4 separate regions of the Homo sapiens genome follow, and all the other regions are reported to be linked to region 1. Evidence: microRNA targets listed by miRTarBase, many of them from high-throughput screens and not tested one by one. Region 1 holds a microRNA gene; each other region holds the end of a gene's coding sequence.
Evidence for each region. Region 1 holds the annotated microRNA hsa-miR-5680 (GAGAAAUGCUGGACUAAUCUGC, at 5,035-5,056, opposite strand). A microRNA usually pairs through its seed, bases 2 to 8, with sites in the 3' UTR of a target mRNA and lowers its output. Matches are read on the target gene's strand: a 7mer-m8 pairs with bases 2 to 8, a 7mer-A1 pairs with bases 2 to 7 and ends in A, and an 8mer does both.

Region 2: the mRNA of SDHD is a reported target of hsa-miR-5680. Seed matches in the 3' UTR shown: 7mer-A1 at 5,870-5,876.
Region 3: miRTarBase lists ACP1 as a target of hsa-miR-5680. Seed matches in the 3' UTR shown: 7mer-m8 at 1,296-1,302 and 7mer-A1 at 1,746-1,752.
Region 4: the mRNA of ASS1 is a reported target of hsa-miR-5680. Seed matches in the 3' UTR shown: 7mer-A1 at 6,604-6,610.

The regions. Positions count from the first base shown.
Region 1 is chr8:102,123,011-102,130,538 of GRCh38, reverse strand. It overlaps MIR5680 (microRNA 5680), which reads right to left and starts at 5,107; the gene lies at 5,024-5,107. It also overlaps a transcript of NCALD not described here. RefSeq lists silencers at 6,203-6,262, 6,633-6,822.
Region 2 is chr11:112,093,857-112,101,384 of GRCh38, reverse strand. It overlaps SDHD (succinate dehydrogenase complex subunit D), which reads right to left. Exons shown (of 4, transcript NM_003002.4): 4 at 5,591-6,580. The coding sequence ends at 6,415. Among named protein-coding and RNA genes, the nearest start is that of SDHD, 11 kb to the right of the region's middle. RefSeq lists a silencer at 1,406-1,614.
Region 3 is chr2:276,065-283,592 of GRCh38, forward strand. ACP1 (acid phosphatase 1) reads left to right here. Exons shown (of 6, transcript NM_004300.4): 5 at 916-1,021; 6 at 1,163-2,219. The coding sequence ends at 1,240. ALKAL2 (ALK and LTK ligand 2) reads right to left here. Exons shown (of 6, transcript NM_001002919.3): 5 at 7,047-7,111; 6 at 3,494-4,088. The coding sequence ends at 4,083. Among named protein-coding and RNA genes, the nearest start is that of ALKAL2, 8.3 kb to the right of the region's middle.
Region 4 is chr9:130,500,387-130,507,877 of GRCh38, reverse strand. It overlaps ASS1 (argininosuccinate synthase 1), which reads right to left. Exons shown (of 15, transcript NM_054012.4): 15 at 6,604-6,902. The coding sequence ends at 6,857. Among named protein-coding and RNA genes, the nearest start is that of ASS1, 59 kb to the right of the region's middle. RefSeq lists enhancers at 1,203-2,049, 2,233-2,732, 5,922-6,216.

The sequences.
Region 1 (7,528 bases):
CACCCTACTGTGCTATCGAACACTAGAACTTATTACTTCTATCTAAGTGTGTTTTTGTACCTATTAACCAGCCTCCTTTCATACTCCTCCCCTTCCCAGCTCTGGTAACCACCATCTACTCTCCACTTCTATGAGTTTGATTGCTTTAGATTCCACATATAAGTGAGAACATGTGGTATTTGTCTTTCTGTGTCTGGCTTAGTTCACCTAGCATAATGTTCTCCAATTCCACCTACATTGCTACAAATGACAATATTTCATTCTTTTTTTTGGCTGAATAATATTTTATTGTGTATATATACCACATTTTCTTTATTCATTGATCCATTGACAGACACTTGGGTCGATTCCATACCTTGGCTATTGTGAAATGGTGTTGCAGTAAATATAGGAGTGTAAGTATCTCTTTGATTTACTGATTTCCTTTTTTTTGGATATGTTCCCAGCAGCTGGATCATATAGTAGTTCTATTTTTCATTTTTTGAGGAACCTCCATGCAGTTTTCCATAGTGGTTGTACTAATTTATATTTCCACCAGCAGTGTATTAGCATTCCCCTTTTCTCCCCATCCTTGCCAGCATCTGTTATTTTCTGTCTTTTTGATATATATAGTTTAGCTATATATATCATAGTTATACACTTACCATGGGATCTAGCAATGCCAGTCCTATATATTTGACCAAATGGAATAACAGCTTGTATTCACAGAAAAAACTGTAGGCAATTATTTTAGTAGCTTTATTAATAATTGCCCCAAACTGGAAATAACCTAACTTTCCTTCAACTGGTGAATGAATAACAACCTATGGTACATTCATACCATAAAAAGGAATAAATCATTGATGTACTTAACAACACAAATGAATAACACATGCTTCATGCTAAGTGAAGCCAGACTTGAAAGGCTACATACTATATGATTCATTGATCTGACGTTCTTGAAAAGAAAGAACCACGGAGGCAAAGAACACATCAGTGATTGCCAGGGGCTAGGGTTAGGGCAAAGGCTTCACTACAATGGGCAGTAACATTTTTGGAGGGGTGACAGTGCTCTGAATTCTGATAGAAATGATGGCTACTCAACCGTGCATTTATTAAAACAAGCAGAACTGCTTATTAAGAAAGTGAATTTTATTGTTTGTCAATTAAAAAAAATACATTTCAAAGGAGCCTTCAATGACTTTGCATTGTTCTTAGAATAAATTCCAACTGAGAGTAAATTTTATGTTCTTGATCCCAGGTTGCGAAACAGTCCATGGTCTGGCCCTGGCACTCTGTGACCTTGTTTTTTACTCTCCCTTCTGGCCACTGTATTAAGCTCATTTTATGCATCCTCTAAGATAGATGATAATGCACCAATTTGCTAGAGCAAACCCAGCAGTGGTCTGTACTATCACTGTGTTCAGGGGGCCGGGTTGCTGCTACTTCTGCTACTACTTCGGATTGAGGTGCTCACTGTGGCTGCTGCTCCCAGTCCCTCAGGGCGCTCTCAGGTACAGCCAGCCCAGCAGTGCCTCACCTCCTGTCATATGCCTTGCCTTCCACCTTGGGACTTCCCTGATGTTGTCCAGGCAGCTACTTTGTGGCCACTCAAATGCAACCTAGGAGGGCTAAGTTAACTAATGGGAGACTAAATTGACTAACGGGAGAAGGGAGCCTGCTAGTAAGTTTTCTTTCTTCCAACCACACCAGTAGTCTTCCTCCACTGCCGACAGATGTTTGGAACTTCAGAAGCATTACATTGTTTCTCTGAAGACCATAGATCAGTGCCTTTCTCTTGGATCCCTCCTAAACTCTCAGTAATGCCCCCATACTGCCTCCTGACCAACCCTTGGTGCTCCTGCAGACTCGAGAGGCAATGCCCAGCCACGGAATGCACTTCCTTGTAGTTGCTCTCCCTCTTCTCCTGACTCACTTCCCTTTTCTCTCAGTCCTACTCCCCTGTGATTTCACTTCCTTACGCACTGTTCATGCCTAAACTTTTGCTCAGGCTCTGCTTGCGGGGAGTTCAGCCAAAGGCACCCCCACCAAGCTCTAGCACATCTGATTTCCTGGATTCCAGAATAAGCTGTGTATTTCCCCCCAACCTACCCCCAAGTTAGAGCCTTTGCACTGTGTTTCCCCTGCCTGGCTCCTTCCTCAGCTGTTCCATCAATCATTCTATGTGAATTACTGACATAGGCACTCATCTAATATATGTCTTATGTGCTCTATTTATTTTTCTCTCATTAAACTTTAAGGCCCACAAGAGCATGAACCTGTCTGTCTTGTTTAGTGCTATATCCTGAGAGCCTGGAGCAGCTCTAAGCACACAGGAGGCCCTTAGAATGAATACTTGCCATTGTTGGACTGGCTAGTCTAAAATCTATACATTCAGTTGCTTGCTTGACACAAACTTGCCAGTCAGTGCCCAAAGTTGACCAAATGAGGTGGTGAGAGAACTGTCCCAGCAAATGAGACCTCTTGAGGTGGGAGGCTCTGAATGTAGACTTACTGCCGGTTGTCTCAGTGTTCCCAGTTTTCAATACCACACTGTTGAAAGAGCGTTTAAAAAAGCAGGGCCCGGCCAGGAGGGGTGGCTCACTCCTGTAATCCCAGCACTTTGGGAGGCCAAGGCGGGTGGATCACCTGAGGTCAGGAATTCAAGACCAGCCTGGCCAACATGGTGAAACCCTGTCTCTACTAAAAATACAAAAATTAGCTGGGCATGGTGGCGGGCACCTGTAATCCCAGCTACTCAGGAAGCTGAGGCAGGAGAATCACTTGAACCTGGGAGGCGGAGGTTGCAGTGATCCGAGATCATGCCATTGCACTCCAGCCTGGGCAACAAGAGTGAAACTCCATCTTAAAAAAAAAAAAGCAGGGCCCAACATTCAGACATAAATCTTTATGTTCTTGAATTAGGCAAAGCCTTTTAGGTATGACACTAAAAGTACAAGCATCAAAAGAAAAGACAGATAATTTGTGTTTCATCAAAATGGAAAACTTTTATGCGTCAAAGGACAGCACCAAGAAAATAAAAAGGCAAGCCACAGAAATGGAGGAAATACTGACAAATCATAGATCTGATAAGGGACTTATATCCAGAGTATATAAAAAAATTCTCACACCTGGATAATAAAATGATAAATAACCAAATTTAAAATGGGCAAAGGATCTGAATAGACATTTCTCTGAAGAAGTTATGGCCAATACACACATGAAGATGACCAACACCATGAGCCATTAGGAAAATGGAAATCAAATGTTATAAGATACCACTCTATGAGAACACATGGAACACACGGACACAGGGAGGGAACAACACACACCAGGGCCTGTCGGTTGTGGGGGTTGGGGAGCAAGGGGATGGAGAGCATTAGGACAAATACCTAATGCATGTGGGGCTTAAAACCTAGATGATGGGTTGATGGGTGCAGCAAACCACCATGGCACATGTATACCTATGTAACAAACCTGCACATTCTGCACATGTATCCCAGAACTTAAAGAAAAATTTAAAAAAAGAGATACCATTGTACCTCCACTAGGATGGTATGATTTTTTCAGTGGCAAATAACAAGTGTTGGCGAGGATATGGAAGAAATCTGGAACCTTCATATAGTGCTGGTGGGAATGTAGAATGGTGCAGCTGGTTTGGGAAAAGGTATGGCAATTTCTCAAAATGTTCAACGTGGAGTTACCATGTGATCTGGCAATTTATATATATACCCAAGAAAAATGAAAATGTACATCCACACAAAAACTCGAACAGAAATGTTCATAGTAGCATTATCCACAATAGTAAAAAAGTGAAACAACCTAAATGTCTGTCAACTGATAAATGGATAATCAAAATGTGATAGAGCTATACAATGACATCGTTTGTTCATAAAGAGGAACAAAGTACTGATGCATGCTACAACATGAGACAGCCTTGATAACATTAAGCTGAGTGAAAGAAGCCAGTCACAAAGTCCTCAAATTGTATGATTCCATTTATATAAAATGTCCAGAATTGGCAAATCTACATAGAGAGAAAATAGATAAGTGGTCACTGGAAGTTGGGGGTTGGGGAAAGAAGGGAATGAGTGCTAATAGGTGTGGGATTTCTTTATGGGGTGATGAAAATCAGTTCTAAAATTGGCTATGGTAATAGTTTGTACAACTAACTGCATATGCAAAAAATATTAAATTGCATATTTTGAGTGAATAGTATGATGTGTGAATTATACCTCAGCAAAACTGTTTTTTTTTTAACAGTAGAGATCATTAAAGAAAAATCACATCAATAAAGAAAAGTAGATAAAGTGGACTTTAAAATCACCTCTCTCTCTGAGGAATCCCACCCCAAGCACCTTCCTAACTGCTTCCTATGCACAGAATCTGTCCAGACTACAGGTGACGAACCGATGACCAGGGGACCACTTGTGGCCTACAAATTCTTATTTTCTTGGCTTATAGAGAAATATTTAAAAAATATTTAAAATTTTTTAAAATATTTAAAAAATAAGTTACTAATATTTTTAAATTAGAAGAGTTCACATTAAACGTGAACTTCTGGCTTCTCTTGGGGGCAGGGGGAACCAAACCAAAATAAAATAAAATACCCCGACTTGATGGCCACACTGGACCCTCTTTTCCCACGTAGAAAAATGAGGCTGCCTTTTTCAGGGCCATTGTGCCCTTCTCAGTTTGTCCCTGTATAACCACTTAAGTTACTTCTTTGTCACCTGCTTTTATCCTTCAGGGACATTTGAGTTTGCAACACCTGTGCAGACCTTTTGCTGTATCAACGGGACGTTCCCTTAGGCCCTGCTTGATGATTGGCTAATCCTATGGTGGTTTCCAACCCTGGCCACACATCAGAGTCTCCTGGGGCCCATGTGAAAAAAATACCCATACAAAGCTGGACACCCCTGAACCCCGGATTTTTTTTTTTTTTAACAATTAGATTAGATTCTCTCGGGGTCGGGCCTAGTATTAAGAAAAAAGAAAAAACCAAAAACCAAAAAATCCAACTTTCCAATGCAAATTTTTGCTTGCATTGGATTAGCAGATTAGTCCAGCATTTCTCCTCCTGTGTGTCCAGGAAGGGAAATGCTGGGCTAACCTGCTAACCCAATGCAAGCAAAGGTTTTAGTATTTGATGATGGTTTAACAGCCTCCTAGATAATTTTTGTTTTACAATTGAAGGCAACCGGTAGAGCTAGGAAAGGGTGCTTTTGATTAGATGAAACTTTTACTTGGTGTTTAAATCAGAGTTGGCAGCTGTCTGGACCTCAATGTAACTGTCCTTTCTATAACCAGTCATGTTAAAAGATTTTGCAAACATTACAACGAGGAAGGCCAGGTCACGGTGCCTTTGCAGCCTTGTTATTTTTAAGCAGCAACTTTTTAAATTGATGAATTTGAGTTGCTCTTGAGACCTTCTGCGGGTTCTGGAAATGTCACCAGGGTTGACAAGCACAAGGAGTTAGTTACAGTGGCTTTTTGAGAGGCCATGAGTGGACGACACAGCAAGACAGGAAACAGGTGCTGGCAGCCAGCAGGTACTCGATAAATATTGGGTGAATGAATTGACAAGACATTTTGCTTCTCATTATCTCCACACGAGATGAAAAATTTGAGGGGAGGAAGGAGGGGCAGGAGAGGGGCCCCTTAGATGTCTTCCTCCGGATTTTTTGTTAAGCTTTTCCTAGACAGTTTACAGAAGGCTTTGGGTAGAGAAAGCACTAGTTAGACAAAAGCAGCCCCCCTCCCACCTTGTGGGCATGAAGAGTCCAGAGGACACCACCTGAGAAGCTTTTCAACTGCCTTCCAAGGCTCCCTTGAACTTCACTGCGGTAGAGCAGGGACCCCAGACCCCCCCTCAAATCGAAGCTTGGAAGGAGGTGCTCTAGGCTGAATCTGACCTCCCAGGACCCGAGGAGGCAAGCAGATGGCACCCCTTGGAAAGTAGCAGTGCAGGCTGGCTAGAGGCCTGGGCGGTGAGCTAGGACTATGGGGCACCGTGGGGACACGCCCGGAGGCTGCACCAGGGCAAGCGGGGGAGGGGGGGGGCGTCCACTGCACCTGCAAATCCCGCGCCTCATCTTGGCCCCCCTGCAACCCCGCGGTGAAGCCCACGCCGGAGAGGCTGCCTGCGGGGCTGCAGTGGAGAGGGGGTCTGCGGCCGCGAGGAGGGAGGCGGCGAGCCAGGCTGGGGAGGGGGGCGCGGCTGGCGACGGTGCTGTCCAGGGGGAGGCGGGCGGAGGGAAGGCGCTGCCGCTGCTGCCGCCGCCTCGCCCGAAGCGACACAGACGCTGGGAGCGGCCGAGGCGGTGAGTCGCAGCGCCTTCCCTCCGCTTCTCGGGAGCCAGAGCGGAGTCGGAGTTGCAGCCGGGGCGGGTGTGCCGGGGGCGGCTGCTGGGGGGGACCCGTGCGCTCGGTGCGCCGCGGGCGCAGGGGTGGGTTCGAGGAGCGCGCGGTTCTGGGAACCTGGTTCCAGCAGCTCCCTCCTGGGTGCAGTTCACCCTGTCAATTCCTCTGTCATTCCCCCAGTGCCTCTGAGGGAAAACAAAACAAAATTACAGACCTTGAGGGTGGGCGGCAGAAAAGGAGAGAGCAACTTTGCAGAGGGCCGCGCAGAGGCGCGTGGGGCCGGCGGGATGGGGCGCGCTGGGCAGAAGGGGGCGTTGGTGAGCCTGGCGGCCCGGGGACCTCTGGAGCATCCCGCCCCGGGGGCCGGGGCCGGGGCCGGGGGCCGGGGCACCCGCTGGATCCCGGGCCTGCGGAGTCTGCCCGGAAAGGCCACAGGAGGCGAGTGCGGGGCGTGGGCGTCTGGGGAGGGGGCCAAGGGAGAGGCCGAAAGGCGCTGGTTGAACACGGACGAGGAAGTGGTCTGCATTTTGGACTCAGGACCTGAAAGATTCGTGTCCCTTGCGCTCGAGGACTTGGGAAGGGTGTGCTGGGGAGATGTGTTTGAGTGTTTTTCAGTGCATACCGATTTATTTTTAGCTCCCAGAGAAGCAGGATGTGCAAAGTGGGTTGTATCAGCCCGGGAGGGGCAGGAGGTCTCCCTGTCCGCAGGAAATACACAAGTTTTTTTTTTTTTTTTCTAATGCTGCAGATGCTTGCTTTAACTTTTGTGCATGGAGAAAGAATGCCATTTGGCTCTGCAGAGCTCCTGCCAGGGTCAGTTTCTTCCTGCGGGTCTGTCGGAGGCCGCAGGCGAGGCGGCTGGTGTGCTGCTGTGCTTACACGCTAGCCCCGCAAGAAGGTCTATGTTCTGTTCCGTAGGGCAGCTACGGTGAAACACAGAAGTAGGCAGCCAAGGTCTCACTCTCTCAGAAGGAAACCACACAAGCTCGCTCAAAGTTTTCCTACTTCTGGCTGATTTGAAAATAACAGACCTAAGCCACTGTATTACCAAGAGCAGAGTTTGCTGTCAGGGGTTTCTCAGACCTAAGTGGAAATGCTTGTGAGGTTTTTCACTCCAATTGGGAGATCCCCGTGTTTTATGGCCAAAGGCCTTGATGCAGACTACAAAGGAGAGGGGGTGTGGTGT
Region 2 (7,528 bases), not on the chromosome of region 1:
AAGTAGCTAGGACTATACAGGCGCATGCCACCACACCCGGCTAATTTTTGTATATTTTGGTAGAGACAGGGTTTCACCATGTTGGCCAGGCTGGTCTCGAATTCCTGACCTCAGGCGATCCGCCTGCCTCGGCCTCCCAAAGTGCTGGGATTACAGGCATGAGCCACTGCACCTGGCCTGGAAGACTAGTTTAGAAACAGTCACTGATGAAAGTTAGAGTTAGAACCACATTGGAAATGACCATTTGGGTATTTTAATCTCATAGACACCGTTCTGAAGCTCCAGGCCCATAGTCATGGATACATGCTTCACAGTGGTGCTTAGGTCTCAGAAACTGAACATTCAGCCCCACTGGGAATTGACCCTGACACTCATTATCAGGTGTCCAGAGGAGAAAACTCTCCTAAGTAGACATCTACTTTTTAAGATTCTATGAATTGAGACGATAACATCAAGTATATACCACTCTCTCCAAAAGCTTTCTGATCCCTGAGCAGAAAGCTGACTTATATTTAGACTTATATCTCATCTTATGTTTATAATGTGTATCTGAAAATTCCAGGGTCTGAATTCTTTGTGGGTATGGTTCTGTTTATTTGTGCTGACTCTTGCTCAGGACATTCCAGTACTGTGATTTTTGCTGACAGTTCACGTTCACTGGAACTTTATGGGGATTTTTGAAGCTTGTGTTGGGGTAACCCTTCTCTCTCTGGTGAGGATTTGTGCTGACTACCATGCCCTACAAACCTAGGTCAAAGTTAAATTTGCCCCATGTAACCTTTTTAGATATGCAGGTAACTTGAACTCGGACTCCAAACTGGCATGAGGACTGGCTCTTAGCCACACATTCTCAGAAGAGACTCTTTCCTCCAACCTGAGCCAAGGCAAGATACACACATTGCTCTGCTCTCTGCTTTTTCAGATAAATATCAGTTTTTCTTTTGGGGGGGATGGAGTTTCACTCTTGTTGCCCAGGGTGGAGTGTAATGGTGTGATCTCAGCTCACCGCAACCTCTGCCTCCCGGGTTCAAGCAATTCTCCTGCCTCAGCCTCCCGAGTAGCTGGGATTACAGGCACCCACCACCACGCCCGGCCCTTTTTTTTTTTTTTTTTTTTGTATTTTTAGTAGAGACAGGGTTTCTCTCTGTTGGTCAGGATGGTCTCGAACTCCCAACCTCAGATGATCCACCCGCCTCGGCCTCCCAGAGTGCTGGGATTACAGGTGTGAGCAAATATCATTTTTTCTAATTCACCCTTTCTCTGAGGGCAAAACTCTTTATGGTTCTTGGTTTAGGGGAATCTTCATTCTAACTCCCTGGTTTGAGCCCTAAGCTTTTCTCCTGGCCTATGTGCCACCTTCTTAAAACTAGAATCCGGCCAGACATGGTGGCGCAAGCATATAATGCAAGCACTTTGGGAGGCAAAGGCAGGTGGATTACTTGAGCTCAGGAGTTTGAGACCAGCCTGGGCAACACAGTGAGACCTCATCTCTACTAAAAATCAAAAAAATTAGCTAGGCATGGTGGCACAAGTCTGTAATCCCAGCTACTTTCAGAAGGCTGAGGTGGGAGGATCACTTGAGCACAGGAGATCAAGGCTGCAGTGAGTTTGATCACGCCACTGCACTCCAACCTGGACAACAGAGCGTGATTCTGACTCAAAAAAATATAATAATGGCTAGGCGTGGTGGCTCATGCCTGTAATCCTAGCACTTTGGGAGGCCGAGGCAGGCGGATCATGAGGTCAGGAGATCAAGACCATCCTGGCTGACACGGTGAAACCCCGTCTCTACTAAAAATATGAAAACAAAATTAGCCGGGCATGGTGGCAGGCGCCTGTAGTCCCAGCTACTCCAGAGGCTGAGGTGGGAGAATGGTGTGAACCTGGCAGGCGGAGCTTGCAGTGAGCCAAGATCGCACCACTGCACTCCAGCCTGGGTGACAGAGCGAGACTCTGTCTCAAAAATATATATATAATAATAATAATAAGAAGAAGAAGACTAGAACTCTGGGCCACCTGGGCTTAGTAGATACTCTTAGGGGCAACTGATACCCTAAGCACTTGCTTACCTCCCTAGCTGCAGACTTACTTTGGTCTGGCTCCAGAAGATTTCTTTTTGCAAACTAAATAATATGTTTTGGCCGGGTGCAGTGGTCTGTAATCCCAGCACTTTGGGAGGCCGAGGTGGGTGGATCACCTGAGGTCAGGAGTTTTGAGACCAGCCTGGCCAACATAGCTGAAACCCCATCTCTACTAAAAATACAAAAATTAGCCAGGTGTGGTTGTGGGCACCTGTAATCCCAGCTACTCAGGAGGTTGAGGCAGGAGAACCGCTTGAACCCAGGAAGCGGAGGTTGCAGTGAGCCGAGATCATGCCATTGCACTCCAGCCTGGGCAACAAGAGTGAAACTCCGTCCCAAATAAATAAATGAAATATTTTTAAAGGTGTTCTTGTTTAACATTCTAACAGGCTTCATATCAAAGTAAATACTTTCTAAAATTGAGTCTGCCATATTGCCAAAAAATAGAAGTCTACAAATTCTATCTCTTCCTAGCCGTCTCACAAATCCAAAACTTCAGTAGTTACTGATTCCAGTACCATATCTAATTTTCCTTCAACATTTTTCTTTAATGACACTACCTCCCATCCACCTATTTACAACAAAAAATTGAGCAAAGCTCCTTCCTCCCTCAAGCGTTCACATCTTAGTATAACTCTCATTGATTCTAAGTTCTAAATATTTCTTAAATTTGTTCTCTCCTTCATTCTAGCTACAATTGCCTTCACAATTCATTATTTCTTTTCTGGGTCACTAAAATAATCTGTTTCCATGCTTACCTCCCACAAATCCATTCTTTACATAGCTGTCAGCAAAACCTATTTAAAATAAAAATTGGATCATGCCGTTTGCATAATTAAGTCTTCAGTAACTCCATATTGCTGTCAAGATAAAGTCGCAGGCCAGGCACAGTGGCTCACGCCTGAAATCCCAGCCCTTTGGGAGGCGGAGGTGGGTGAATCACTTGAGGCCAGGAGTTTGAGACCAGCCTGGGCAACAGAGCAAGACCCCATCTCTACAAAAAATACAAAAATTAGCCAGGGATGGTGGCATGTGCCTGTAGTCCCAGCTACTCAAGAGGCTGAGGTGGGAGGATGTCTTGAGTATGGGAGGCAGAGGTTGCAGTGAGCCAAGATCGCGCCACTACATTCCAGCCTGGGCCACAGAGTCAGACTCTGTCTCAAAAAAAAAAAAAAAAAGATAAAGTTTCAATTACTTATCGTGGCATATAAGGTCCTCTACAATCAGTCCCTCCCTGTGCTGGGTCATACCAAACTACATATCATCTTTTGCTTGATCTGCCATCCTCCAGTCAACCCTACACCTCATCCCAGCTTCCCCAGCCACTGTCAGCTCCTTATCTTTCAAAACCCAGGTTACAAATCTTCTCTTCCAGGAAACTTGCAGGCAAATCCTTACTGCACCCTTTGTTACATCACAGCGCATGACGTGCTTCACCATCACTGCACTTACTACACCGTATTGCAGTCATTCTTCTGTTGCCCCAATTAGACTATGAATTCCCTTCAAAGGCAGGTAAAATTTTATCGTTATCCACAGTACCTGGCACAGTGCTGATTACATGAGGTACTTAGTATCTATCAAATGAATGAATTAATGTTTTTGACTTCTACAATACCTTTTGAGATTGACTCCTACTTCCACTGCTACTCTCAAAGTTCAGGCCCTTTATTCTGTCTCTATCCCCTCACATGTCCTTCTACCTCTAGCTTATTAACCCACCTAATGGTACCCAAATTATTTCTAAAGCACAGTTCTGATCATGTCCTGCTTACCGTCAGAAACTACTATTGCTGTTAGCCCTTGGATTTTTTTTTTTTTTAAAGAGACAAGATTTCACTCTGTCACCTAAGCTGGAGTGCGGTGGTATGATCATAGCTCATTGTAACCTCAAACTCCTGGGCTCAAACAATTCTCCCACCTCGGCCTCCCAAGTAGCTAGAACTACAGGCACATGCCACTGCCAGTGATGCCCGGCTAATCTTTTTTTTGTTTTATTGTATTTTTGTAGAGACAGGGTCTTGCTATGTTGCCCACGCTGGTTTTAAACTCCTGGCCTCAAGCAATCCTACTGCCTCAGCCTCCCAAAGTGCTGGGATTACAGGCATGAGCCACAGCACCCTTCCGGAATCTTGCCTCATTTTCCAGCAGCTCACAGCAACCTACTGACTTCCCAAAGACAGCTCAGCTCCATCCTAATGACCAAACCAGCAGGGACATGGGGCAGGCAGTGCCCAACCAGCCTCCACTCCAACTTCGTTCACCATCTAATGAAGCTTATTAGCACTAGACAGCCTTGTATATCTAGGATCTGATGGTACTAGAGATAGCTATGGATTCCCATATTATCCAGAGTCACTGCCATCCCCATTTTGACTTTATGGAAGACTCCATTTCATCACTCCACTCTACAGCAGCAGTATACTGAGAGCTAGGGAAGGGAAGGAATGACACTACAAGGTGGGGAGGGGATCGTCTATAGAGAATTTTAAAACAATAAAATTGACTTTTAGTCCATTTGTTTTTTATCATCATCAAGCATCAGCAATTCTAAACAATGTCAGAATATTGTTTATATATTCTCTCCCACCAGGGTGGACTGGTCCCACCACCACTATCTGTTGGTGTGCCACTGCTATTCAGGCATCACCCTCTTTTGAAACCTTTTACCCACCCCAAAACAGAATTAATCACCTCTTCCTAAACCCTAATGCACACTTGAGTCTCTACAAGACCACAGGCACATCAAGGAGAGCATGTCTTTAACCCCTAGTACACATTCATAAACACATACTCTTCCTTTGCCTCAGCTTCCCAGTAAGGTCCTTGGTGAGTAAAATGTGCTTAGTCCCAGTTACTCTATATTGATAGAAGACAGCATCATGCCTTACACTCAACTCTTAGACCAGACTAAATACACATAGAACATAATATGAATTCCAAAGGCTGGTATTCACAGAACACCATAATCTGGACATAGTTCTTATTCCTAAATACTAAACCTTATACTCTGTTTATACCAAATTACTTATACACTTGGTATTTTTCTGCCTATTACAAGTCCTTTTTGTTTTCCAGTACTTTGTGTCTGATTTACCTAACTGCTAAGCCCCAGAAGAAAATTTAAACACTCAATTTTGGCTGGGCGGGGTGGCTCATGCCTGTAATCCCAGCACTCTGGGAGGCCAAGATGGGTGGATCACGAGGTCAGCAGTTCGAGACCATCCTTGCTAACACGGTGAAACCCCATGTCCACTGAAAATACAAAATATTAGCTGGGCGTGGTGGTGGGTGCCTGTAATCCCAGTTACTCGGGGGGCTGAGGCAGGAGAATGACATGAACCTGGGAGGCGGAGCTTGCAGTGCTCCGAGATCACGCCACTGCACTCCAACCTGGGTGACAGAGTGCGACTCCGTCTCAAAAAAAAAAAAAAACCCAATTTTGTTTTCATGCTGTGGATGCAATGGACACCTAATTCTAATGAATAAAACTACTGATAGCTAATATATAAAAGCATAGAAGACACTTTTATTATATAACATTTTATTTAAAAAAATTATTTTCATAGAATACATTTTCACATTAGAGATTCCCATTGTGCGAAAATAACAATTTATTACTTATAGTTTTATATTTGTGGACAGATTGTTTTAGAACAAGTAGAATACATTTGGGAATTAAATCTCAATTTACAGTTGGTAGTATTTTGATACATCTACAGGGAAACTTGCCCTTAAATGGAACTTCTGTATATTCAGAAGCACTCCAAGCGTTTCTTCCTAGGATTTAGAAATTTATAATATGAGCTATCAGCATTTCCTAATTTTAAAATTTCCCTAGTATATGTAACCATCAGTAGGTGGTATCTACTGTCTAGAGAGGGAAGTTTTCGAAAATTAAACACTGTCTAATTTTCTGCAAAGTTTTTATTCATGAATTAAGAGTATTTCCCTTTGTCCATTATTCCCAAGGCAAATATGGAAGTTTGATCATATACTAATCGTAATAAAGTTGGATTCTCTTTAAGAGATTGATAAATTGAAAGGCAAAAGCTGATATATCATGTTTAGTTATACTGTGAGTCTTATAAGAAGCTGGGAGGCAACCCCATTAACTCACCAGAATATAGAACTCAGTCTCACAACTTAGATATAATTCCTCTCAAACCTTTTCCTCAAAGATTAAATTCTGAAAATAATCTTGTGATTAAGAGAAGAAGGCTGTCCACCAATGGACTTATCTGTTATTTCTTCCTTATTGTGAGCTTAATGGCATGACAAAGCAGAGGCAAAGAGGCATACATCAATTCTTCAAAGTATGAAGTCAAAAAGGTCAGAGCTTCCACAGCATGGCAACAGCTTTGCAGATGCCCACATCGTGATAGTTGAAATAGCAAAGCCCAGCAAAGGTTAAAGCTGAAAGTGCCAAAAGCCCTGCCTTGGCAGCTTTCTGCAAGGCATCCCCATGAACATAGTCAGTAACAACTTGTCCAAGGCCCCTAAAGAAAAAGAAAAAATCATAACATCAATAAAAAACCACAGTGAAATTAGAAGACTATACAGATAACTTGGCTGCAAAAAAACAATCTGTCAAGTTCAAATGCAATGTCTCCATTTGCCACTCCACTGTCACTGTTTGCTTCTTTAGGGGATTCTGTATAGCCTTTTGCGTGTGTATGTCAGTAAGTCTATTTCTAGTGACTTTTCTTTAGAGACAAAGTCTTACTCTGTTGCCCACGCTGGAGTGCAGTGGCCTGATCATAGCTCACTACAGCCTCGAACTCCTGAGCTCAAGTGATCCTCCTGCCTCAGCCTCCCAAGTAGCTGGGACTATAGGAGCATGCCTCCATGCCCGGCTAATTGTTTTTTATTTCCTTCTATTTATTTATTTATTTATTTATTTATTGAGACAGAGTCTCGCTCTTTTGCCCAGGCTGGAGTGCAGTGGCACGATCTCGGCTCACTACAACCTCCGCCTCCCGGGTTCAAGTGATTCTCCTGCCCCAGCCTCCCAAGTAGCTGGGACTACAGGCGCCCACCACCACACCCAGCTAATTTTTGTATTTTTAGTAGAGACAGGGTTTCACCATATTGGCCAGGCTGGTCTCGAACTCCTGACCTTGTGATCCGCCCACCTCAGCCTCCCAAAGTGTTGGGACTACAGGCGTGAGCTACTGCGCCTGGCCTGTTTTTTATTTCTTTAAAGATGCGGTCTCACCATGATGCCCAGGCTGGTCTTGAACTCTTGGCTGCAAGTGATCCTTTCACCCCAATAACTAAAAATAACTAAAACTCTACAGTATTTTTAATTAATTCAAAAAGAATTTATTAAGTAGATATCATGTGCCAGAATCTGTCATAAATGTTGGGAGTATAGTAAGTGAGACAGCATCCCTACCCTTATGGAATATACTAGTGAATGAGAAGGAAAAAGTAAATATATATGT
Region 3 (7,528 bases), not on the chromosome of region 1:
ACCCCATTTGCTTTGACTGGCACTGAGCACCGTGTTTCTTTGCGTGTGGGGCAAGTGGAGTTCCTGCAGCCTCACATTTGCACGTGCTGTTCCTCTGCCTGGAAGCTCCTCCTTGCTTCTTGGGTCATTCGGCTCCTATTTGCCCCTCGTGGGTCAGCTTAAATTCATTTCTTGATAGAGGTATTCTGCTGCCCTGTCATTAGGCCAGATTGTGCATTAGACTTAGGCCTGCCTGCAGTTCTCATTCCTGCACCTAATCCTGAGCTGTAAAACTTCGTGCATGGGAGCTCTTGGCTGTTCCGTTCCCACATAAAGCACGTACCTGACTCATCAACTCATCTGTCGCAGGTGCTCAGTCGAAATTTGTTAAATAAATGGAGGCGCTTAGTTAAGTTTGCCTTTTTCTTTTGTAGCAATGTGAAAGCTAAGGGTGGAAGTCTAGAGTGAAGCTGAGTTTTCAGCTTGGGCAGAGGCTTAAGGAATAAAAGATGGAAGAGTAATTAAGGAGTGGGTCGTGCTGTGGGAAGTGCTGTGTCAAGACACCTGAGGATGGAATTGGTAGCCCTCTGTTTTGGGACTGGTTCAGATGGTGTTTTGGGTTCCTTTCTATGACCTTTATCTCTGAAACTTGATTGTCTTAAAATGTATTTTGTGGGAGAAAATATAATTATTGTATATTTTGTGTAACAGAATCAGTGAGAATAAGCTGCTGTCGCAAACTGTCTTGCCTAGAGAGAGGGCAGTGGCATACAGCTGCAGAAGGGGCCACACGGGCCTGCTGAGTGTTCCGTTTCATTTCAAATTAGGTCATTCTGTCTTGATTTTGATATGGATGTTTCAGAACACCCTAGCAGATGTCCCTGTTTAACTTGAAACCATAGATCAGAAAACTAAGTTCATATTTCAATTTTACAGAGATTTGAATAGAAAAAGTAATCAAGTTAAAACCTGCAAAGCTAAAATTGAACTACTTGGGAGCTATGATCCACAAAAACAACTTATTATTGAAGATCCCTATTATGTAAGTACAGTTCACGTTTTAGGGCTAATATGAAGACCCAACACATTTGTATCCTGCCATATTAAATAACAGATGAGATTGTGTTAAGGATGTTTTTGTTATGCAGGTTTTGCCATTTTCTTCTTTTTCCTGTCCATTTAGGGGAATGACTCTGACTTTGAGACGGTGTACCAGCAGTGTGTCAGGTGCTGCAGAGCGTTCTTGGAGAAGGCCCACTGAGGCAGGTTCGTGCCCTGCTGCGGCCAGCCTGACTAGACCCCACCCTGAGGTCCTGCATTTCTCAGTCGGTGTGTAATCACGTTCCAGGGCCCAAAGCCCAGCTCTTTGTTCAGTTGACTTACTGTTTCTTACCTTAAAAAGTAATTGTAGATGGAAATCAGTTGTGTTTGGCAGGAGAATCAATAAAAATCTTTGATTCAGACAGCTTATGGGGTATTTTAAGCATTCTTAGACTAGTTGAACATCTCACTTTGCCCCAGTTACAAAAATAGTAGAACAAGCAACATAAAACAATGAAGGAAAACCTCACTTGAAGGCCCAGGTCAACATCTAAGCCTGTTGAGACTTAGATAATCGAGTCTACCTCTTCAGTAGGTTTGTGTGGATGGCCTGGAGGGCAGGTGCCCTCTGCTCCCCAGTGCTACCTCTCTCTTCCCTAGGGCCTTTTGTGGATTGACAGTAGTCCCCTCCGTAGGAGCTCACAGTCTAGATTAGAAGTGTTTTAATTTCTACACACCCATAGTGCACACTTGTATATTGAAAAGATAGGGAAGAGAGAAACATTTATGGAATCAGTCGTTGGCACCTTCAATACTTCATGATTTTTGTCGAGTTTACTTCATGAGGAGGTCAGCCCATTGGCTCCCATCTGAACCACTTTGCCTCTGAAACTTAATTACATCCAGAAAGAAGGACACTTGTATGCTAGTCTATGGTCAGTTGAGGAATATGACTGTTTTTATATGCACATGTAACCCAAATGTCCAATATAAATTGGCTTATTTTTTAAAATAATTTTAAAAGTTGGGAAAAGTGTTATTATTTGGCATGCTTAAATATTGAATAAGTATTCTTCATCAGCATTTAATAAATGTATAGGCAGATGTAAGGTAATTTCTGTGTATTTTGAGATAATGTCAAAATCATGAATATTTCAAAATAAACTGGGGAGTTATAAAAATACAACTAGAGATATAAATCTGGTGTCTGCCTGTTTTTTTATTGACAGGTAAGGAAGCATTTGAAAACATTGTATTGTCCTTTTTACATGATCTGTGATGTTAGGTGTGCATATTTTATCTTCAGGATAAGGAAGTAAAATGATGAAAATAAGCACATTGCTGCCCCATGTCATCATGTCTAGTTTCTGAAGGAAGTTTGAGGTTCTACAGCTGGAACTGTCCTTGCCCAGTACCATCCTCTGGACATGTTGCCTCTACGCTGTGCCCTCCTGTGCAGTGATGCACAGCTGCCTGGCCAGGACATCTGCACTCCTGACCTCAGTATCATGAGGGTCCCAGGCAGTGCCATGGGGAGGAGACACGTTTGATCCTTGACTCCCTAGTATCTGGAGGATAAGCTGTTGCCAGATGAAAGTGAGTAGTTTCCCCACTGTACCATGTGGAAGTGCCAGGCTGTCTTCATAGGAAGAAAGTTTGCAAACCCAGTGAGTCTTGCTCTTGTTGGAATTACTCAGACATACAGAAAACTGAGGGGATTAAATATTAATAGATTGGATATTTGAACATGAAATCCTTAAAACATAAAAAATGGGGAAGGAAAGGTCAAGTAATGAGCTGTAATTAGAAAACAGGATTAAATAAGAGCACTTCAAAAGTTACACCCTGTTCTCTTCATTCAGTAATTGCTTTTAATCTCAAAGTCAAAATTTCTTACTCTTCTATTCCTTTATGTTTGGAAATAAAATCCTATAGTTTTTCTTTAATGTTTATCTCTATAAATACAGATCCTCAAACAAATCCTAGGACTCTTGACTATTCTGTCCTTATGGCTACACCCAGACGATACCATCTGCCGACAAGGGCTCATATGAATGGAGAAACTCATTGCTTTGCCGAATTCAGCTTTTTAAATTGGATCCAATTAGATTTGTTTAAAATACATCTACATCTAAAATTCTGAGACTGCTTAGAAGTCTTAAGGTTTCTCCTAGTTAAGCATTTTCATGATTACAAAATCGCTTGGGAAATAATGGATACAACCTTATTTGGAATATTTCCCAGCAAATCAGGGACTATCTTAGGAAATTATGTCACCAATATATAGTAGCCTTTACTTTAAAAAAAATGCTAATTATCCCTTAGAGAAATTCTTAGGCTTCAAGTTTTCATTTGTTTATGGCTTTCATATTCTATGACCTTTTGCCAGTGTCATGATCTCTCAGTAAATCAGAAGTCACGAATTCCCAACAGTGAACCTGTTAAAGAGGTAGAGAGTCACTTTGAAGACTAGTCATTATAACAAACACTTCATTTATTACTTGTGTTTATTTACACTATTTACATATTGCACAATAGCTGGAATACTATTTTACATTTATAATACAAACGACCAACAGAATTAGCCACAGATTTACACTCCACTGTCTCTAAAACATGACCGAAATTTTAATTTTTCATGCCGTTCCAAATAATACTCTGAGAATTTAACAGTGAAAGTAATACAGAATATCAAATTATGTTATATGAAAATATACTTTAAGATTCTGCTTATGTTTCTAAAGAAATATTTTTTGCGATTTCACCTAATGAAGACAATGAAATATTCTGTGTTTTATAGCACTACACGTCAAATGTGGAGCATTCCTTTTGTGTTTTTTTTTTAAATAAGTGACAGATAACACTGTCAAGTACACTGATTTATCGAATATATATCTGCAAACTGTCAACAACATACAAAACTCAAAGGACTTATGGAAGAGTCTGTCTGCAAAAATAAATCTCTTGTCCATGAGGGGATGTGTATAAAGATAGTTCTGTTTCCCTGTTGGTTTCCAAGGCACTTCTCATGGCTCCTGGTGTGCTGCTCCTGTACGGTCTGCTCACTGCTGAAAACAAATACATTGCGTGTGATATGACTATCCACACTTCTTAATGTCAATTCCAGAAGACCTGTCACTTCAGTTAGGGGACACAACATGTTTATAAACATAGGCAGTCTCAGAGTGCATCTGTATTTCTCTGTGATCCAAAAAGTGTAGTCTATTGTATTTTTAAAAATACCTTCTTTCTGCAGTTGTTACATGGCTGCAATGCTAAAGCAATGAAAATCATCACAGATACATGTGGATGCTTTATTACAGCTTGAAGAGTGCTTAGTCTTACATGTGCTATCAGAATCCTCAGTAGTCTAGGCCACAGGGATTAACCTGGCAGTTCTGCAACCTCAGTGTTCACAGGGTTGGTAAAGCTAATAATCGAGATTAGACATTTGTTTCTAGCATTCTTTGTTGGAATATCTAAACCATTGGTATTCTATTTATTTTTAAAGAATGATAAACTTCAAGGTTACTAAGATTAGGCTGCATTTGGGAGAGTACACCATGTACTCACTACTCAAAACTCCATTTCTTTGACAATATTCCAGAGCTCAGGCTTCTGATTAACTGACCTGTAAGTCCGGACAATGAAGTGTATCTGTGACTGTTAGGGAGGGTTGGTGGGGACATTGTTCTCTTTGGCCTGAGGAGGTCTATTAATGAGCTTCAGAACGCGGCAAATGGATTTGCTCTGAGGTGAGGAGGGCAGAGCCCTTCCTGCTAAAGGCCTGCTTTTCTCAGGCTCTGGGCCTTTCTTTACAAAGACAAGGTCATGGTTTACGGTCTTGCCCTGCCATCCTTGTGTGTCAGGACAGAAGTGCATGTGGCAGGTTAACCAGCAGAACTGGGACTGCAGGGCCTGCCTGATGCCACACCGTCACACGAGTGTGGGCACCCTGGGACACCTGCCCTGCCCTCTGGTGTCTCACTGAGGTCTGCAAAGCACAGAGAAAGCCCGGACTGTATCTACACTGTGGTGACCAGCCACAGTAAGAGTTTGCTGTTGCTGTTTAACAATTTGTTAACACCAGTAACAATTTGCTGTTGCTGTTTAAAACTTTTGGAATTTGAAGAAATTATCTTTAAAAAATAGGAGTTATGAAATTATAGTTAACAGGGTATCAATATTTTAAACTTTACCTATCTCTTGGCCAAAATGAACCCAGTTACAGCTGTGACACCTGTGGCTGTCAAGCAGGTGGCCTTTTGGGGACAGAAGCTTGCGAGCCTGGGCCTTGTCTTGTTACCTTTACCTGCATCTCATCGTCAGTCAGGCTCTGATGTGGTTGTCTGGTGATGGGGAGAGTGATGTGAAGAGTGCTGGGGACTATCAAGGGGATTCTGCCACAGCTTTTCTGCAGGGCATCACTGTGGCGTTTGCAAAGCAGGACGTGCGCACGCAGAGACCCATACAGGAGCCTGAGTCCCACTGACATGACCACGTCCTTCAGTGTAACTGCACCTGCCTCCAGCAGCAGCCAGCGGAGGGGAGGCAGGGGTCGGCTAATGGGCATGTGGACGGAGTAGCTCTTCCAGTGGCTGAGACAGTGGGGAATTTGCTCTCCTCACTTGTAAGTAAGTGGAAAATTTCCAAGGATGTCCCTGGCCCATCTCTGGGAACACTGTGTTTAATTATAAAGAAATACCTAAAAAAAAAAAAAAATTCTCATCTCCCCTGGCATATCACCTTGGGTGACAGGAATGTACATCTGTTCACTGATTTAAACAGAAGAAAGTCTGTGTGACACATAGGCAGTGGATGAGCTGCTCGAGAGAATTGGAAAGAGCAGGGATGTGGGGAGACATTACTACACAGCACTTCCCAGCTTTGACTGACATTGACACCTTCACTATCTCCAAAGAAAAAGTGCAGTGAAACTGTGCAAAATGCAGTCTCAACCCGCCATTACCCACTGGCCTCCCTCCCCCAGTGCCATTCCTCTCATTAGCAGCAGTTTCTTCTACTGGGAAAGATGGAGTGGGGGATGCATGGGCAGGACCCGCCATGCCTCCTGCCGGTGTTGGGGTCATGCACACAACCCTTCTGCTGCTACCTAAATATTCATAAGCACTGCCTCTGCATAGAGAGCACATCTATATAGGAAAGAGCACTACCCTACCCTCATCCATTTTACATGAGAGAAACTAGAGTAACCACTATAAAAATACTCCCTTTTCATGAATGTGCTCCGGACAGCTATCAATGGACAGGAAGCCTGTCTTTCTTGTGCTGGTGTAGCCAGCATCTGGCAGTGCCCACATATACAAGACACATAGTAAGTATAAAATTGGTGAAATTACAGTTGCATCCTGCTGTCTAAAGTGACTGGATTCTGTGGCATTTGTGTCAGGAAAATAAAACCTTACCCTTCAAAACATCCGCTGATGGTTGGTGTTAAATGTTGCATATCAGCCCTCAAGGGGCCAAGGTGCAAAGTTTAGTTCATAAACGTGGTATGCATTTACATTTTTACTATTAGAGGCTGTGAAAAAAAAAAACCATTGATAGAAACATTTAAAGAGGATAGCTGTTCTTTATGAGCTTATGACTACAACTCAAACATGTACCAGATGTGATAATCTGAATTTGCAGGGACAATGTTGGTCATCTACTCACTTGTGTTAGTGAATGAATGAATGCCTCGAAGTAAACGGACAATTTTAGTCTGTTCCTGACTTACGCACTCAGTCACATGCTGACACTGGCTGACTTGCTGTGTTTCAGAGCAGGACCCACTTAGTGCCCGTGTGCCATGCAGTGAGCAGTTAACAACAGCTGCCGGGGCCCTGTAGACAAGCCAGTAGGGTGGCTTTCAGCACTGTGAGATGAGTGTTGTGCCATCTCTACTTAGAATATGGCTACTTCAGCCAAAGAATGAGTGTTCCTAAACTCCCATGAATTTTTCATGTCCCAAGCGGGATTCCCATCTTTGGTATGTGCTCCAGTGTGTGTCTGTCCAAGCTTACCTTATCCTCCATGCACACTGGACTGACAGCCAGCCGGGTAAGAAGCCTGGCGCATCTTTTATAGTCTACGGTGAAAATATATCAGACTCTTGTCAGTTACTTAAAAAACAAATAAATCGCATTTTTTTGCAAGTATATCAGCTACTAAAGCCATTTATTTCTTCAAATATCTGAATTCCCTGGAAGCAATACGGAGTCTAATCTGCAGGCATGCATTCTAAGTTGTTGACTTAATAATTTATGGTGCTTCAAGGGCTTGAGCTTCAATGGCAGAAGTCGGATGATGTAAGTGGGGCAGCGGAGGGAAGAGGGACAGACACGAAGGCTGCATGGCTGAGCTGGCTGCCCATTGCTTCTCTCAGAAATAACTTCATTTCGCTTCCTACGTGACAATCCTTCCGTACCCTTGTGCTACTTTCAGGTCATGTGCAGGCTGAATCCCAACTTGAGTTGACCATGGGACAAAGCCTTCTGCCTGTAAA
Region 4 (7,491 bases), not on the chromosome of region 1:
CAAAAAAAAAAAAAGTGTATATATATATATATATATATATATATACACACACACACACACACACACACACACACACATATATGGGCTGGGCAGGTGGCTCACGCCTGTAATCCCAGCACTTTGGGAGGCCGAGGTGAGTGGATCACTTGAGGTCAGGAGTTCGAGACCAGCCTGGCCAACGTGGTGAAACCCCGTCTCTATTAAAAATACAAAAATTAGCTGGATATGGTGGTGCACACCTGTAATCCCAGCTACTCAGGTGGCTGAGGCCGGAGAATTGGTTGAACCCAAAAGGCGGAGGCTGCAGTGAGGCAAGACGGCACCACTGCTGCACTCCAGCCTGGGTGACAGATGGAGACTGTCTCAAAAAAAAAAAAAAAAAGTATATGGAAAAGTAAAGGACTCAGAATAGCCAAAACAGTCTTAAAAGAATGAGGTTTAAGATTTACTATAGGCGCTTTTTTTTTTCCCTCTCCCTCTCCCTCTCCCTCTCCCTGTCCCTCTCCCTGTCCCTCTCCCTCTCCCCTCTTTCCACGGTCTCCCTCTGATGCCGAGCCGAAGCTGGACTGTACTGCTGCCATCTCGGCTCACTGCAACCTCCCTGCCTGATTCTCCTGCCTCAGCCTGCCTAGTGCCTGCAATTGCAGGCGCGCGCCGCCACGCCTGACTGGTTTTCGTATTTTTTTGGTGGAGACGGGGTTTCGCTGTGTTGGCCGGGCTGGTCTCCAGCTCCTAACCGCGAGTGATCCGCCAGCCTCGGCCTCCCGAGGTGCTGGGATTGCAGACGGAGTCTCCTTCACTCAGTGCTCAATGGTGCCCAGGCTGGAGTGCAGTGGCGTGATCTCGGCTCGCTACAACATCCACCTCCCAGCAGCCTGCCTTGGCCTCCCAAAGTGCCGAGAGTGCAGCCTCTGCCCCGCCGCCACCCCGTCTGGGAAGTGAGGAGCATCTCTGCCTGGCCGCCCATCGTCTGGGATGTGAGGAGCCCCTCTGCCTGGCTGCCCAGTCTGGAAAGTGAGGAGCGTCTCTGCCCAGCCGCCACCCCATCTAGGAAGTGAGGAGCGCCTCTTCCCGGCCGCCTTCCCATCTAGGAAGTGAGGAGCGTCTCTGCCCGGCCGCCCCGTCTAAGTGAGGAGACCCTCTGCCTGGCAACCGCCCTGTCTGAGAAGTGAGGAGCCCCTCCGCCCAGCAGCCGCCCCGTCTGAGAAGTGAGGAGCCCCTCCGCCCGGCAGCCACCCCGTCTGGGAAGTGAGGAGCGTCTCCGCCCGGCAGCCACCCCATCCGGGAGGGAGGTGGGGGGGTCAGCCCCCCGCCTGGCCAGCCGCCCCGTCCGGGAGGGAGGTGGGGGGGGGTCAGCCCCCCGCCCGGCCAGCCGCCCCATCCGGGAGGTGAGGGGCGCCTCTGCCCGGCCGCCCCTACTGGGAAGTGAGGAGCCCCTCTGCCCGGCCACGACCCCGTCTGGGAGGTGTACCCAACAGCTCATTGAGAACGGGCCATGATGACAATGGCAATTTTGTGGAATAGAAAGGGGGGAAACGTGGGGAAAAGATTGAGAAATCGGATGGTTGCCGTGTCTGTGTAGAAAGAGGTAGACATGGGAGACTTTTCATTTTGTTCTGTACTAAGAAAAATTCTTCTGCCTTGGGATCCTGTTGATCGGTGACCTTACCCCCAACCCTGTGCTCTCTGAAACATGTGCTGTGTCCACTTAGGGTTAAATGGATTAAGGGCGGTGCAAGATGTGCTTTGTTAAACAGACGCTTGAAGGCAGCATGCTCGTTAAGAGTCATCACCACTCCCTAATCTCAAGTACCCAGGGACACAAACACTGCGGAAGGCCGCAGGGTCCTCTGCCTAGGAAAACCAGAGACCTTTGTTCACTTGTTTATCTGCTGACCTTCCCTCCACTATTGTCCTGTGACCCTGCCAAATCCCCCTCTGCGAGAAACACCCAAGAATGATCAATAAATAAATAAATAAATAAATAAATCAGAAAAAAAAAAAAGATTTACTATAGGCTATAATAAGCAAGTCAGAGAGTTTTTGGCGTAAGGCTAGACACATACATTAATGAAGCAGAATTGAGAGTCCAGAAGTAGACCCATACCCATCAACTGATTGTTGTTGTTGTTGTTTTCTTGAGACGGAGTCTCGCTCTGTTGCCCAGGGTGGAGTGCAGTGGTGCGATCTTGGCTCACTGCAACCACTGCCTTCCGTGTTCAAGTGATTCTCATGCCTCAGCCTCCCAAGCAGCTGGGACTACAGGCTTGCGCCACCATGGCCGGCTAATTTTTATATTTTCAGCAGAGATGGGGTTTCACCATGTTGGCCAGGCTGGTCTCCAACTGTTGACCTCAGGTGATCTGCCTACGTTGGCCTCCCAAAGTGCTGGGATTACAGGGGTGAGCCACCATGCCTGGCCTAATCAATTGATTTTTGACAAAGATGCTAAGGTAATATAATAGGAAAAAGACTTTTTAAGAAACGGTGCTGGAACAGCAAAACATCAGTATTTTCAAAAAATAAACTTTGATCCTGAATCACAACCTACACAGTAATGAACTCGAAATGGAGCAAGGACCTACTTGTAAATGTTAATAAAATTTTTTCAAAGAAATAAAAGCTGGGCCTGGTGGGGTGGCTCATGCCTATAATCCCAGCACTTTGGGAGGCTGAGGTGGATGGGTCGTTTGAGGTCAGGAGTTTGATACCAGCCTGGCCAAATGGTGAAACTCCATCTCTACTAAAAAACACAAAAATTTGCCAGCGTGGTGGTGGGGGCCTGTAATCCCAGCTACTCGGGAGGCCGAGGCAGGAGAATCGCTTGAACCCAAGAGGCAGAGGTTGGGGTGAGCGGAAATCACGCCACTGCACACCAGCCTGGGTAACAGAGTGAGCTTCTGTCTCAAAAAACAAAAACAAAAACAAAAAAAACTGAAAGAATTAATCACTGCACTAGAAGAAATACTTTTAAAAGTTCTTCAACAGAAGGAAAATGATATATATAGAAACTTTGTCTATTCAATGGAATGAAGGGCATCAGAAAAAGAAATATATGGATAAATATAAGATAAACTCTTTTCTTATTTTTAATCTTTATTTATTATTATTATGATTTTTTGAGGCAGAGTCTCATTCTGTCACCCAGGCTGGAGTGCAGCGGTGCAATCTCAGCTGTTTATTTTTATTTTTTGAGACAGAGTCTTGAGATGTTGCCCAGCCTAGGGTACAGTGCTGTGATCACACCTCACTGCAGTCTCTACCTCCCAGGCTCATGCGATCCTCCCACCTCAGTCTCCTGAGTAGCTGGAACCACCAGCATGTGCTACCACACTTGGCTAATTTTAAAATTTTTTGTAAAGATGGGGTCTCCCTATGTTGCCCAGGCTGGTCTTGAATCCCTGGGCTTAAGCAATCCTCCTACCTTGGCCTCCCAAAGTGCTAGGATTATAGGCATGGCCCACCATTATTTTTCATCTTTTAAAATCTTTTTTTTATTTTTATTTTTAATCTTTTAAAAGTGATATTTGACTGTCTAAAGCAAAAATAATAGCAATGTATTATGGGATTTTGTAGCATATGTATGACAACAAAAGCATAAAGTGAAATGTTCTAGGCTCGTACTGTCGCAGAGTTCTTATGTTACACTCGAGGTGGCATACTATTAATTGAAGGTAGACTGTGGTAAGTTAAAGATATATAAAATAACTCTCAGAGAGGGCACTAAAAAAGCCATAACTAATAATTAAGTATAGCTAATAACCAATTCTTAAAAACATTCCATTAAATTCAACAAAAGGGCTGGGCATGGTGGCTCATGCCTGTAATCCCAGCACTTTGGGAGGCTGAGGCAGGTGAATCACTTGAGCCCAGGAGTTTGAGGCCAGCCTGGGCAACATAGTGAGACTCCATCTCTATTTATTTAAAATATAAAAGATAAATTCAACAAAAGGCAGAAAAATAATTTAGAATATGGAGAGAACTAAATATATAAATGGGGAAAGGTTAAGTTAGGGAGTATCAATGTTAACAAAATATTATGTAATCGCTGAAAATGTTTAAGGAGTTTTAAAAATTTATTTATTTATTTATTTTATGGAGATGGGGTCTCGCTATGTTGGTCAGGCTGGTCTTAAACTCCTGCACTCAAGCGATCCACCCACCTCGGCCTCCCAAAGTGCTGGGATTATAGGCATGAACCTCTGCGCCCAGGCTTAAGGATTGAGTTTTTAAATGTTATAGGAAAGCATTTATGATATGTTAAAATTTTAAAAATAGGGTGCAAAGTATATACATTAAAGCATAAATATATAAAGTTTATACTTTATTATTATTATTTTTTGAGACGGAGTCTCGCTCTGTCACCCAGGCTGGAGTGCAGTGGCGCAATCTTGGCTCACTGCAAGCTCTGCCTCCCAGGTTTACACCATTCTCCTGCCTCAGCCTCCTGAGTAGCTGGGACTACAGGTGCCCACCACCGTGTCCGGCTAATTTTTTGTATTTTTAGTAGAGACGGGGTTTCACCGTGTTAGCCAGGACAGTCTCAATCTCCTGACCTCATGATCCGCCTGCCTCGGCCTCCCAAAGTGTTGGGATTACAGGCATGAGCCACCGTGCCCGGCTAAAGTTTATACTTTAAAGTATAAAGTATACATTTATAACTATAAAATATAAAGCATTTATACTTTAGCCTAAATAACTGCAAAAATATTGTAAGCATAGGAAAAAATATATGTGCATTATAGGATGTTTAGCCAAAAAACAAAAAAAGAAAAGAAAAAGACATATGACTGATAATATACCAAATGTGGCTGGGCGTCGTGGCTCCTGCCTGTAATCCCAGCACTCTGGGAGGCCGAGGCCAGGCTGGTCTCAAACTGGCTGGTCTTGAACTCGTAGCCTTGTGATCCACCCGCCTCGGCCTCCCAAAGTTTTGGGATTAAAGGGGAGAGCCTCCGTGCCTGGCTAGTTATTTCTTTTCTTAAAGATGCAGCTTATCACTATGGTTAAAGACATAATGGCCAGGTGCAGTGGCTCACGCCTGTAATCCCAGCACTCTGGGAGGCCGGAGGTGGGTGAATCACCTGACATCAGGAGTTCGAGACCAGCCTGACCAACATGATGAAACTCCGTCTCTACCAAAAATACAAAAATTAACCAGGCGTGGTGGTGGGCGTCTGTAATCCCAGCTACTCAGAAGGCTGAGGCAGGAGAATCGCTTGAACCTGGGAGGCGGAAGTTGCAGTGAGCCGAGATTGCGCTACTGCATTCCAGCCCGAGTGACAGAGCGAGACTCCATCTTAACAACAACAACAAGACAAACGCACAAGATTTGGGGACTCAGCCAGGCCGGGGTTTGGTTCTTGGTTCTGTCACTTGCTAGCTCAGTGGCTTTTGGCAAGTCAGTTTATCTGCAGCTTCGTTGCTACCTCTACATTATGGAGATGAAAGTGTCCACCTCCAAGTGTGGTTTTGAAGATTCAATGAGATAATGTGAATAAAGTGTGTAGCGAAGTGTTTGGCACAAAGCTAATATTGAGTCATTTATTATTACCACGGACATTAATAATCAGAGGAAAATAAGTTTTAAAGGTAAAACTTCTTTTGCGAGAAACCCTCATGGACACAGGCAGCGGAGTGGCGAAGCGATCCCTGAGGTCAGGTTCTGAGTTCAGAACCAGGGCAAAGCACAGAGCAAGCGGCACTCAAGTCTTCCCAGTGAAGATGCTTTTGGTTGCAAGGAGCAGAAACTCTCTCACTGAGCTGGAGTCCTGAATTCGTTATGATATCAGGTGTCAGGGAAACCAGGCCAAGAGATGCCACCAGCTTTCATGAAGCACCAGTACAGAAATATGGACGCCAATACCATGACCCTCTCTTCCCATCTCTTCCCTCTCCTTTCCTTCTACACCTGCTCTGTGCCCCAGGTCCACAGCATCCCAGCGGTGAGTGCCTGTGTTACATGTCCTCACTTCGGCCACGTGCCGAGGCCCAATTCCTGCGGGTTCTGATTGGCCAGCTCGAGTCAGGTGTCCATCCACGGTCCAATCAGATATGACCAAGGGGGGCCAGGGCCACACTACAAACATGGCTGCTTTAGGGCCTGGTTTGTGGACAATGAGAAATGCTGCCAAGTTCCGGGCTTGCTCTTTTCTCCTCTCTGCTCAGGCCTCTCCCTCCTCCTTCATGATTTAGGCTGCTTTAGGCCATGCAGCTGTGGTAAGTGTCCTAGGGTCACTCATGGCCACCCTCTATAGAAGCTCCCTGTGGGCTGTGAGTAAAAGTGATGTCCAGAGAAAGGGCTGTGCGTTGATGCCCCCAAAGGGCATTCCCTGAATTTTATTTGGTTTCCTGACATTTGCCACAGGACCACAGTTGGTGACAGATTCCCAGGATGCTGGCTAGGATCGGACCCAGGCGGCACTTCTGGATTCCTAGTTTTTGCTGGAGAGGGGTCGACTGCCAGATTAACAGGCTGTCTGGCAAATGGCGGCCTTCGGCAGCACTTAGGTCCGAAAACACAAAGGTTGGCCTAAGAAAACCATAATTAACTACACACACACACACACACACACACACACACACACACACACACACACTCACTAGAAATAAAAGACTAGTGTCTCTTTTAATTGTCATTTTTATAGCTCCCCACCGCAGCTGCCCCCCACCCTTCCCTTCGATGACAACGTTTGCAGGCTTCAGGGGGACCAGGGAACAAAGCTGGGGCCTGGCAGCCCCACTACGCTGCCAGCCGGGGAGAACAAGTCACAATTACAAATTATCACAACAATTAGCGCCTGTACTTGGGGGATCTGCAAATTGAGGAGGCCCCAGCTCCTCATTGTACACGGGTCTATTTGGCAGTGACCTTGCTCTGGAGACGATGATATTCCTTCAGCCTGTAAACCAGATTCAAAACAAAGAAAAATGTAAATTAACAATAACAACACACACTGGGTTCAATTAATTCAGGCAGAGCTGGGGTGGCTGGGGCAGCTGTTTGTTAAGATGTGTGTGAAGTTGCCTTTTTTTCTATTCCCTCTCCCGCCCTGGCCCCTCCTGCCCTCCAATCAGGATAATGTAATTAATTTATCTTAGGGGGAAAACATTGTTTGTCATTGTTGAAGACAAAGCGTTTAACTGGCAATAGGAGAAATGAAGAGGCCACTATGTAAGCCCTGTTTGTTCTGGGCCATTTAAAAGGGTTTATAGAGTCATAAAATACAAACAGAGGGCGCAGGAGGCAGGGGAGGTGGAGGTGACGGAGGGGAAGGGAGAGGACCCTGGGCAGATGGGCGGGCTTCAACATCTCTCGGGGCATGAGGTGCCTCCAGGGACAAGAGACTGGCTCTGGGAGAAAATGATGGCTCTGTGCCCAGGGCATGTTGTTAGCAAGAGGAGACTGACTTGCATCTTCTTCTAGACTCCAATCCCCATGAGAAGGGAGCTGGTGATGGAGAACCCACAGCAGGACAGGCCCTCCGGACT